Homo sapiens: one gene and its partner. The gene in region 1 interacts genetically with each later gene. Each region holds a gene or a part of one and is shown on either strand. Other genes may lie near its edges.

Region 1 (4,159 bases):
AAAGAAGTCTTTTTAACATATGATACTGAAATAATTGGATATCTACCTGCAAAGAATCAGGTTGGACACCTTCCTTACACCATATACAAAAACTAATTCAAAGTGGATCACAGACCTAAATGTAAGAGCTAAAACTATAAAATGCTTAGAAGAAAACACAGAGGTTTACCTTCACGGGCTTAGCAAAATGGGAGGCCGAGGTGGGCAGATCGCTTGAGGTCAGGAGTTTGAGACCATCCTGGCCAACATGGTGAAACCCTGTTTCTACTAAAAATACAAAAATTATTTGGGCATGGTGGTGCGTGCCTGTAATCCCAGCTCCTCGGGAGGCTGAGGCAGGAGAATTGCCTGAACCTAGCAGGCGGAGGTTGCAGTGAGCCGAGATCTCACTACTACTGCATACTGCATGCCAGCCTGGGCGACAGAGCGAAACTCTGCCTCAAAAAAAAAAAAAAAAAAAGAATGAAGTACTAATATATGGGCTGCCACATGGGTTACCCTTGAAAATGTGTTAAGTAAAGAAGTCAGCTCCAAAAGACCACATATTATATGATTTAATTTATAGGAAATGCCCCTAGATTTTTTAGTGGTCACCCAGTGGAGAGGAGTTGGTGGCAAATGGCAAATGATTGTTAATGAGTTCAGTTTTCTTGGGGGGCAATAAATTGTATTAAAACTGTTTGTCTATACTAAAACCACTGAATGGCATACTTTATTTTTATTTTTGAGTTGGAGTCTTGCTCTGTCACCCAGGCTGGAGTGCAATGGCACAGTCTTGGCTCTCTGCAACCTCTGCCTCCTGGGTTCAAGCGACACTCGTGCCTCAGCCTCTCGAGTAGCTGGGACTACAGGCACGCACCACCACACTCAACTAATTTTTGTATTTTTAGTAGAGATGGGGTTTCACCATGTTGGCCAGGGTGGTCTTGAACTCCTGACCTCAAGTGATCCGCCAGCCTCAGCCTCCCAAAGTGCTGGGATTACAGGCATAAGCCATGGCGCCCAGCCAAATGGTATACGTTAAATGGGCAAATTTGGCATGTGAATATCTCAATAAAGATGTTTCAAAAAAAGTAGACAGTAAAGGCATTATCAAATGATTAACAGAATTATTAATTCTATTTAGTTCATTGAGTGGACATTATTTATATCCGAAGCATGATGTTGAACTCTAGAGATACTACAAACATTACTAATATGTAGTCACTTTTCTTAAGAAACTTTGTATACTAGAACCTCGTAAGTGGCTAGAAAATGAAATCTAATAAACTGGGTATTTTCTTAGATCCCAATTAAGGAATTCAAATTAACAAACTACTTCATTACAAAATATTTTCTATAATGAATCAAATCCCAAGGACGATATTAAAGAGGTCCAGGCCAGGGGCAGTGGCTCACGCCTGTAATCCCAGCACTTTGGGAGGCCAAGGCGGGCAAATCACAAGGTCAGGAGTTTGAGACCAGCCTGACTAACATGGTGAAACCCCGTCTCTACTAAAAATACAAAAAGCAGCCAGGCGTGGTGGCATGCACCTATAATCCCAGCTACTCAGGAAGCTGAGGCAGGAGAATCGCTTGAACCCAGGAGGTGAAGATTGCAGTGAGCCGAGATTGTGCTATTGCACTCCAGCCTGGGCAACAAGAGTGAAACTGTCTCAAAAAAAAAAAAAAAAAAAAAAAGAGGTCCAAGTAGAATTGAGATACAGTCCTCTTTCACGTTTCTCAATTCAACAAAAAGGTTTTGAACATCTATGTGGAATGTACTAGGTAACAAACACAATTTAATCTTCACTTTATACCATTTTTCTAAAAATGTTGTAATACCTGGTTCTCTTTTCTGTTTCTTTTCTAATCTTTGTTTTAGGCCTTCTAGTTCCACACCATCTTCTTGAGGGCTTCCTTCAGTATTTTCATTCTAAAAGATAGCAAAGTTAGGGTTGGATATAGAATAAATTCTGAACTATGGGATTAGAGATTTTATACATTTTTGGCTGGGAGCGGTGGCTCACGCCTGTAATCCCAGCACTTTGGGAGGCCGTGGTGGGCAGATCTCTTGAGGTCAGGAGTTCGAGACCAGCCTGGCCAAGATGGTGAAACCCCATCTCTACTAAAAATACAAAAATTAGCTGGGTGTGGTGATGTGCCCCCAACTACTTGGGAGGCTGAGGCACGAGAATCGCTTGAATACGGGAGGCGGAGGTTGCTGTGAGCTGAGATCCTGCCATTGCACTCCAGCCTGGGTAACACAGCGAGACTCCATCTCAACAACAACAACAAAAAAATTTTATACATTTTTTTTTCAATTTTAAGTGGACATATGCATCAATATTTTATGCATAATATTTTTAAGAGTATTACCTCTTTTTTTTTTTTGAGATGGAGTTTTGCTCTGTTGGCCAGGCTGGAGTGCAGTGGTGTGACCTTGGCTCACTGCAACCTCTGCCTCCCGGGTTCAAGCGATTCTTCTGCCTCAGTCTCCCGAGTAGCTGGGATTACAGGCGCCTGCCACCATGCCCGCCTAATTTTTTTAATTTTTAGTAGAGACAGGGTTTCAACCATGTTGGGAGGCTGGTCTTGAACCACTGACCTCAAGTGATCCACCCACCTTGGCCCCCAAAGTGCTGGGATTATAGGTGTGAGCCACCACAAGAGTATTACCTTAATTTTCTTTTTATTTTTCTTTTCTGCCTCTGCTTTCATTTCTATGGTTATTCGTGGAATGACTCTTTGACCACGCGGAGAAGGCAAAACTTCAGCCATTTGTGTTTTTTTCCCCTTGGCCTTCCCCCCTTTCCCAGGAAGTCCGACTTGTTCATCTTGTTTTTCCTTGGCTTCAACAGCCTACAGAAGGGATATAAGAAAGCAAGTTTAAATGTTAACAAAAACATTACAATATCTAAACACCCAACAGTTAAACTGATTTCATTTTGTTACATCTTAAAAACTAGTGATAAATTGCTCCATAACCTAGTATACTATCAACAATAGTGAAGATGTAATTAAAACACACCTTGAAAAGGAAGGTGTGGAGACAGAAGGACTGGGTTTTATTCCTGATTCTACCACTTAACCTTTTTGAGGAAAACAAGGGAGAAACTAAAAATAAAACATGTATATACATATATATTTGTAAACTCACATACAAAATATGAAAGGAAGTGATGCACACTTATCCAACCAACTGATTACAATGAGCTAGGCATCTATACTGAAGTGCAGTAATACAAATTTGCATGTTAAATTTAAGAAATAAAGCTTTTGGTGGTTTTTTTTTTGTTTTTTTTTTTTTAAGAGACACGCAGGCTGAGTACAATGGTACATGATCATAGTTCACTGCAGCCTTGAACTCCTGGTCTCAAGTGATCCTCCCACCTTGGCCTCCGGAGTAGCTGAGACTATAGGCCCACACCACCATGCCTGGCTATTTAAAAAAAACATTTTGTAGAGATGAGGTCTTGCTACGTTACCCAAGCTGGTTTTGAACTCCTAATCTCAAGTGATCCTCCTGCCTCAGCCTCCCAAAGCACATTGGGATTACAGGTGTGAGCCACAGTGCTGGCCTTTTTTCTTATGTTAAAATAATGTTGAGAAACAAATGTTATTAGGAAGATTTAAGTAACAAATAACCTTCTGAAACCATCTGGATAGCCCTGCTTTCTCCTTTTTTTTTTTTTTTTTTTAGATGGAGTCTTGCTCTGTCACCCAGGCTGGAGTACAGTGGCGCAATCTCGGCTCACTGCAACTTCTGCCTTCTGGGTTCAAGCAATTTTCTTGCCTCAACCTCCTGAGTAGCTGGGATTACAGGCGGATGCCACCACACCCAACTAATTTTTGTATTTTTAGTAGAGACAGGGTTTCACCATGTTGTCCAGGCTGGTCTCGAACTCCTGACCTCAAGTGATCTGCCCACCTCAGCCTCCCAGAGTGCTGGGATTACAGGCATGAGCCACCATGCCCTGTGGCTTTGTCCTTTTAAGTTGACTTGGGGGACTGGGTTGGTGGTCTTCTTCCACATTTAGGCTCTTTTTATCTTCTCAGTCCTAATATGTTCTTCCCTTTATCAAAAATCAACTCCTGCTCTTTTCTTTTTTTGTCCAGAAATGTCTGAATGTCTGGGCAGTCTCCTGGTATCATTTACTGTATTCTAAATAGTATTTTT
Region 2 (3,829 bases), about 22 Mb from region 1:
CTGGCCCCTGGTGGGACCAGGTAGTTCCTCCTTGCCCAAGGTGGTTTGGAATGAAACCTCCCTGGACCTTGGTTCAAGGTGCTGCCCTGATCTGCCTTTTGGCCTGGAACTGAGCTCTACCAAACCCCAGGGCTCCACCCGCCCAGCCTGCCTGCCCTGGGACTGGAAAATCTGGGCTGGCCCACGCTGAGCTGCCCAGGGAAGGTGCCAGAGAGCCCAGCGTGGGCCTGGCGGGCGCTGACGTGCCCAGTGACTCAGGTCTCAACTTCCTGCCCTGCCCCCACTCCCGCCTGTGCTGGGACCCTCAGGCCTCTGACTCTGGTGTGCCCTTCCCTGCTGAAGAGCTTGCCGTGGCTTTCAGGGCTGCTGGAATGAGTCTCAACCACCCCCACAGTCACACACCTCTCACGCCCTGGCTCTGGGCTTTCACCACCGCCTGGGGCCCTGCTTGGACTCTGCAGCTGTGTCCCAAGGCTGCGCCCTAGATTTGTCTACTCCTTCCCCTGCCCCCTCCCTGCTTTCTCCCGGCCTCTGTAGTCTTCCTGCTCCTCCACCTACGTGGCTGCCTTGGGCCCCATGCAGCTCCTCCCCCGGGATGCCCCATGCTCTGTTCTGTGACTGCCTTACTCTTGATCACCTCTGATGGCTGCTCCAGTGCAGGCAGAACCCCCAAAGTCCTCTGTTCTCTACATGTCCCCCTTTGCCACCTCCTGTTAATCAGGGTGGTCATTTCCACCTTGTTTGGTTTAAAGGCTCCAGGTGCATATGGTGCATGTGGCCTGGCCTATAACAGGTGCACAGTGTACCTGTGCTGTCTACAGTAGGTGCCTATTGTTTTTTGTAAAAGTAGGATTCCGGTCAGTGTTTGGCACGTGCAGTAGGTGCTTAGTGAGTGGTTATCAGATGAGTGAATGGAGGGGCGTGCAGGCCTCCCAGGAACTCGGGTAGCCCTGACATCTGCCCTCCCTGCAGCCATGAGGACGGCACCGTGAGGTTCTGGGATGCCTCGGGTGTGGCGCTGCGGCCGCTCTATAAGCTGAGCACAGCTGGCCTCTTCCAGACAGACTGTGAGCACGCTGACAGCCTGGCCCAGGCTGCCGAGGACGACTGGCCACCCTTCCGCAAGGTGGGCCCCTCCCCTGGCCCTGATGAGCTGGTCCTGACCCCGCCTGGACTCATTACTCCTTCCCATCCCTCTAGGTGGGCTGCTTCGATCCCTACAGTGACGATCCCCGGCTTGGCGTGCAGAAGGTTGCTCTCTGCAAGTATACAGCCCAGATGGTGGTGGCTGGCACTGCAGGCCAGGTAGGGCTGGGTGTCCCCTGGGTTGGAGATGTCAGGGAGGGCTTTCTGGAAGAGATGAGCTGGAGGGTCTGGTGGAAAGGGAGATGGACTGGCACAGGCAAAAGCCAAGGTGGGAATAGGGCTCTGGGTGGGGCTGGCTGGGGTGAGGACAGATGGGAAGTGGGCCTGTCGCTGGGGGAACCACAGTGTTGAGAGGAGGGAACTCATGTCAGTGCTGTGCTCCGGCACTCACATGACATACAGGAGGTGCTCAATGTGTCCTTATTGCTAAATGGGAGATAGAGGCTCAGGGTAAGGGTGGACACTTTGCCCTCAGAGGGCAGGGACTAGTGTGTCTTGGTCACCACTGTGTTCCTTGTGCTCAGCCAGGGCCTTGGTATACAGTAGGCATTCAGTGAGTGCTTGTTTAGCTGATGAACTGAAGACAGTCCTAGAACCACCTTGGTGGTGGCTGGGGCTGCTTCAGAGGCTCCAGGCTGAGTGGGGCCCAGGGCGGCCCCTCCCCTGCGCTGATGCTCCCCCTGCCTGGCTGTGGGCTCAGGTGCTGGTACTGGAGCTTAGTGATGTGCCGGTGGAGCAGGCGGTCAGCGTGGCCATCATAGACCTCCTCCAGGACCGCGAGGGCTTCACATGGAAGGGCCACGAGCGGCTGAGCCCACGCACGGGGCCGCTGCCCTGGCCTGCTGGCTTCCAGCCCCGTGTCCTGGTGCAGTGCCTGCCGCCAGCTGCTGTAACCGCTGTCACACTCCACACCGAGTGGAGCCTCGTGGCTTTTGGCACCAGTCATGGCTTTGGCCTCTTCGACTACCAGCGCAAGAGCCCTGTGCTGGCCAGGTGTGTGGGGTGGGGCCGGCTGGGCAGTTGGAGCCCCCAGCGAGATGGGGTCTGGGCTTCCGTTTCCACCTCTAGTGTTTGGTGTGGCAAAGGCCACTAACCTCCATTGCCCTATAAGAAATAACCTGGCAGCTCCAAGAAGGACATTCTCAGTACCACCTGCAGCTGGGTCCATAGGACTGCGCCAGAGGGGCTGTGACTCCCTGACCTGGGTGCCTCCACAGGCCAGCAGGAGTGTGGTGGCTGCCCCAGGAGGCTGCTCTATAGCACGACTGGACCCTGTCTTCCCCCAGGTGCACTCTTCACCCCAATGACTCCCTGGCCATGGAGGGTCCGCTCTCCCGGGTGAAGTCTCTCAAGAAGTCACTGCGCCAGTCTTTCCGGCGCATTCGCAAGAGTCGTGTCTCTGGCAAGAAGCGGGCTGCTAATGCCAGCAGCAAGGTGAGCTGGGGTGGGCTGCACAGGAGCTGTGCCTGTGTCCTGTGCCTTGGCCTGGCTCTGGCCTGGGACCCCTGGGGCCTGCTTAGCTCAGTGCTCCTCCCTCGGCAGCCCCTGGGCCCTCCAGAGGGATGGGTGAACTAAGCTGGGTGGTAGAGGAATGGTAACAGAACGTAGGGCGCAAAGCAGGATGCAAGCCACTGGGGTGCTAGGGAGACAGTGTTCAGGAGCCCCCGCCCGGCAGTTGCAGGAAGCCAATGCACAGCTGGCTGAGCAGGCCTGCCCCCACGACGTGGAGATGACGCCCGTGCAGCGCCGCATTGAGCCCCGCTCTGCCGATGACTCCTTGTCGGGTGTCGTGCGTTGCCTATACTTTGCCGACACATTCCTTCGAGATGGTAAGGCAGGGGCAGGGGCAGGGACAGGGCAAGGGTTGGGGGGGCTGGCCTCAATTGGCCACCTGGGAGATGGGTGGTGGCAAGGGAGGTGGTGGGACTGCACCTTCCAGGAGGTGGCTGGGCACGGTGGCTCAAGCCTGTGAGTGATCCCAGCACTTTGGGAGGCCGAGGTGGGCGGATCACCTGAGGTCAGGAGTTTGAGACCCGCCAGGCCAACATGGTGAAACCTCGTCTCTACTAAAAATACAAAAATTAGCCAGGTGTGGTGGCGGGCGCCTGTAATCCCAGCTACTTGGGAGGCTGAGGCAGGAGAATTGCTTGAACGTGGGAGGCGGAGGTTGCAGTGAGCCGAGATCGTACCACTGCACTCCAGCCTGTGCAACAGAGTGAGACCTTCTCAGAAAAAAAGCTTACCATCCAGCTCTCCCAGGGGGACTGCTGGGTCACCCCCAGTCTCTCTGGGGGAGCTGGATGGTAAAGGATTTTTGAGTGAGCTGGGTGGGCCTCTCAGATCTGAGCCAGGAGAAGGGAGGTTGAGGCCTGGTGGATGACGGTGAGGGGCACCAGCCAGTGCCCAGGCCCCGAGCCGGGCATGTGTGTGGGCAGCTGCCCAGCCACTTGGCTGGAGTGGAGCAGGTGAGGGTCGAGGTGTGTGGTTCAGGGAGATACTGCTGCTGGCCAGAGGCTGAGGACCTGGCTTTGATTCTCAGTGGCCTGGGAGCCCTGGGAAGGTCCTGGATTTGTTGATTGAGTCACTGATTGATTTTGAACTTGTACAATGGGAGAGTTTCAAACATACACAAAAATAGAGAGGTGCAAAGTTGTCCCACATACCTCACATGCCTGCCACCAGC

The links. A genetic interaction does not mean that the proteins touch.
Region 2: changes in TOP2A (region 1) and LLGL1 are lethal when combined (synthetic lethality), as found in Homo sapiens cells (one large-scale study listed by BioGRID).

What each region holds. Positions count from the first base shown.
Region 1 is NC_000017.11:40,393,625-40,397,783, forward strand, and holds part of TOP2A (DNA topoisomerase 2-alpha), read right to left. Parts: intron 2,842-4,159; coding exon 2,659-2,841; intron 1,916-2,658; coding exon 1,825-1,915; intron 1-1,824. UniProt on the Homo sapiens protein: Key decatenating enzyme that alters DNA topology by binding to two double-stranded DNA molecules, generating a double-stranded break in one of the strands, passing the intact strand through the broken strand, and religating the broken strand.
Region 2 is NC_000017.11:18,235,635-18,239,463, forward strand, and holds part of LLGL1 (lethal(2) giant larvae protein homolog 1), read left to right. Parts: intron 1-972; coding exon 973-1,126; intron 1,127-1,200; coding exon 1,201-1,305; intron 1,306-1,846; coding exon 1,847-2,139; intron 2,140-2,432; coding exon 2,433-2,580; intron 2,581-2,821; coding exon 2,822-2,975; intron 2,976-3,829. UniProt on the Homo sapiens protein: Cortical cytoskeleton protein found in a complex involved in maintaining cell polarity and epithelial integrity. Involved in the regulation of mitotic spindle orientation, proliferation, differentiation and tissue organization of neuroepithelial cells.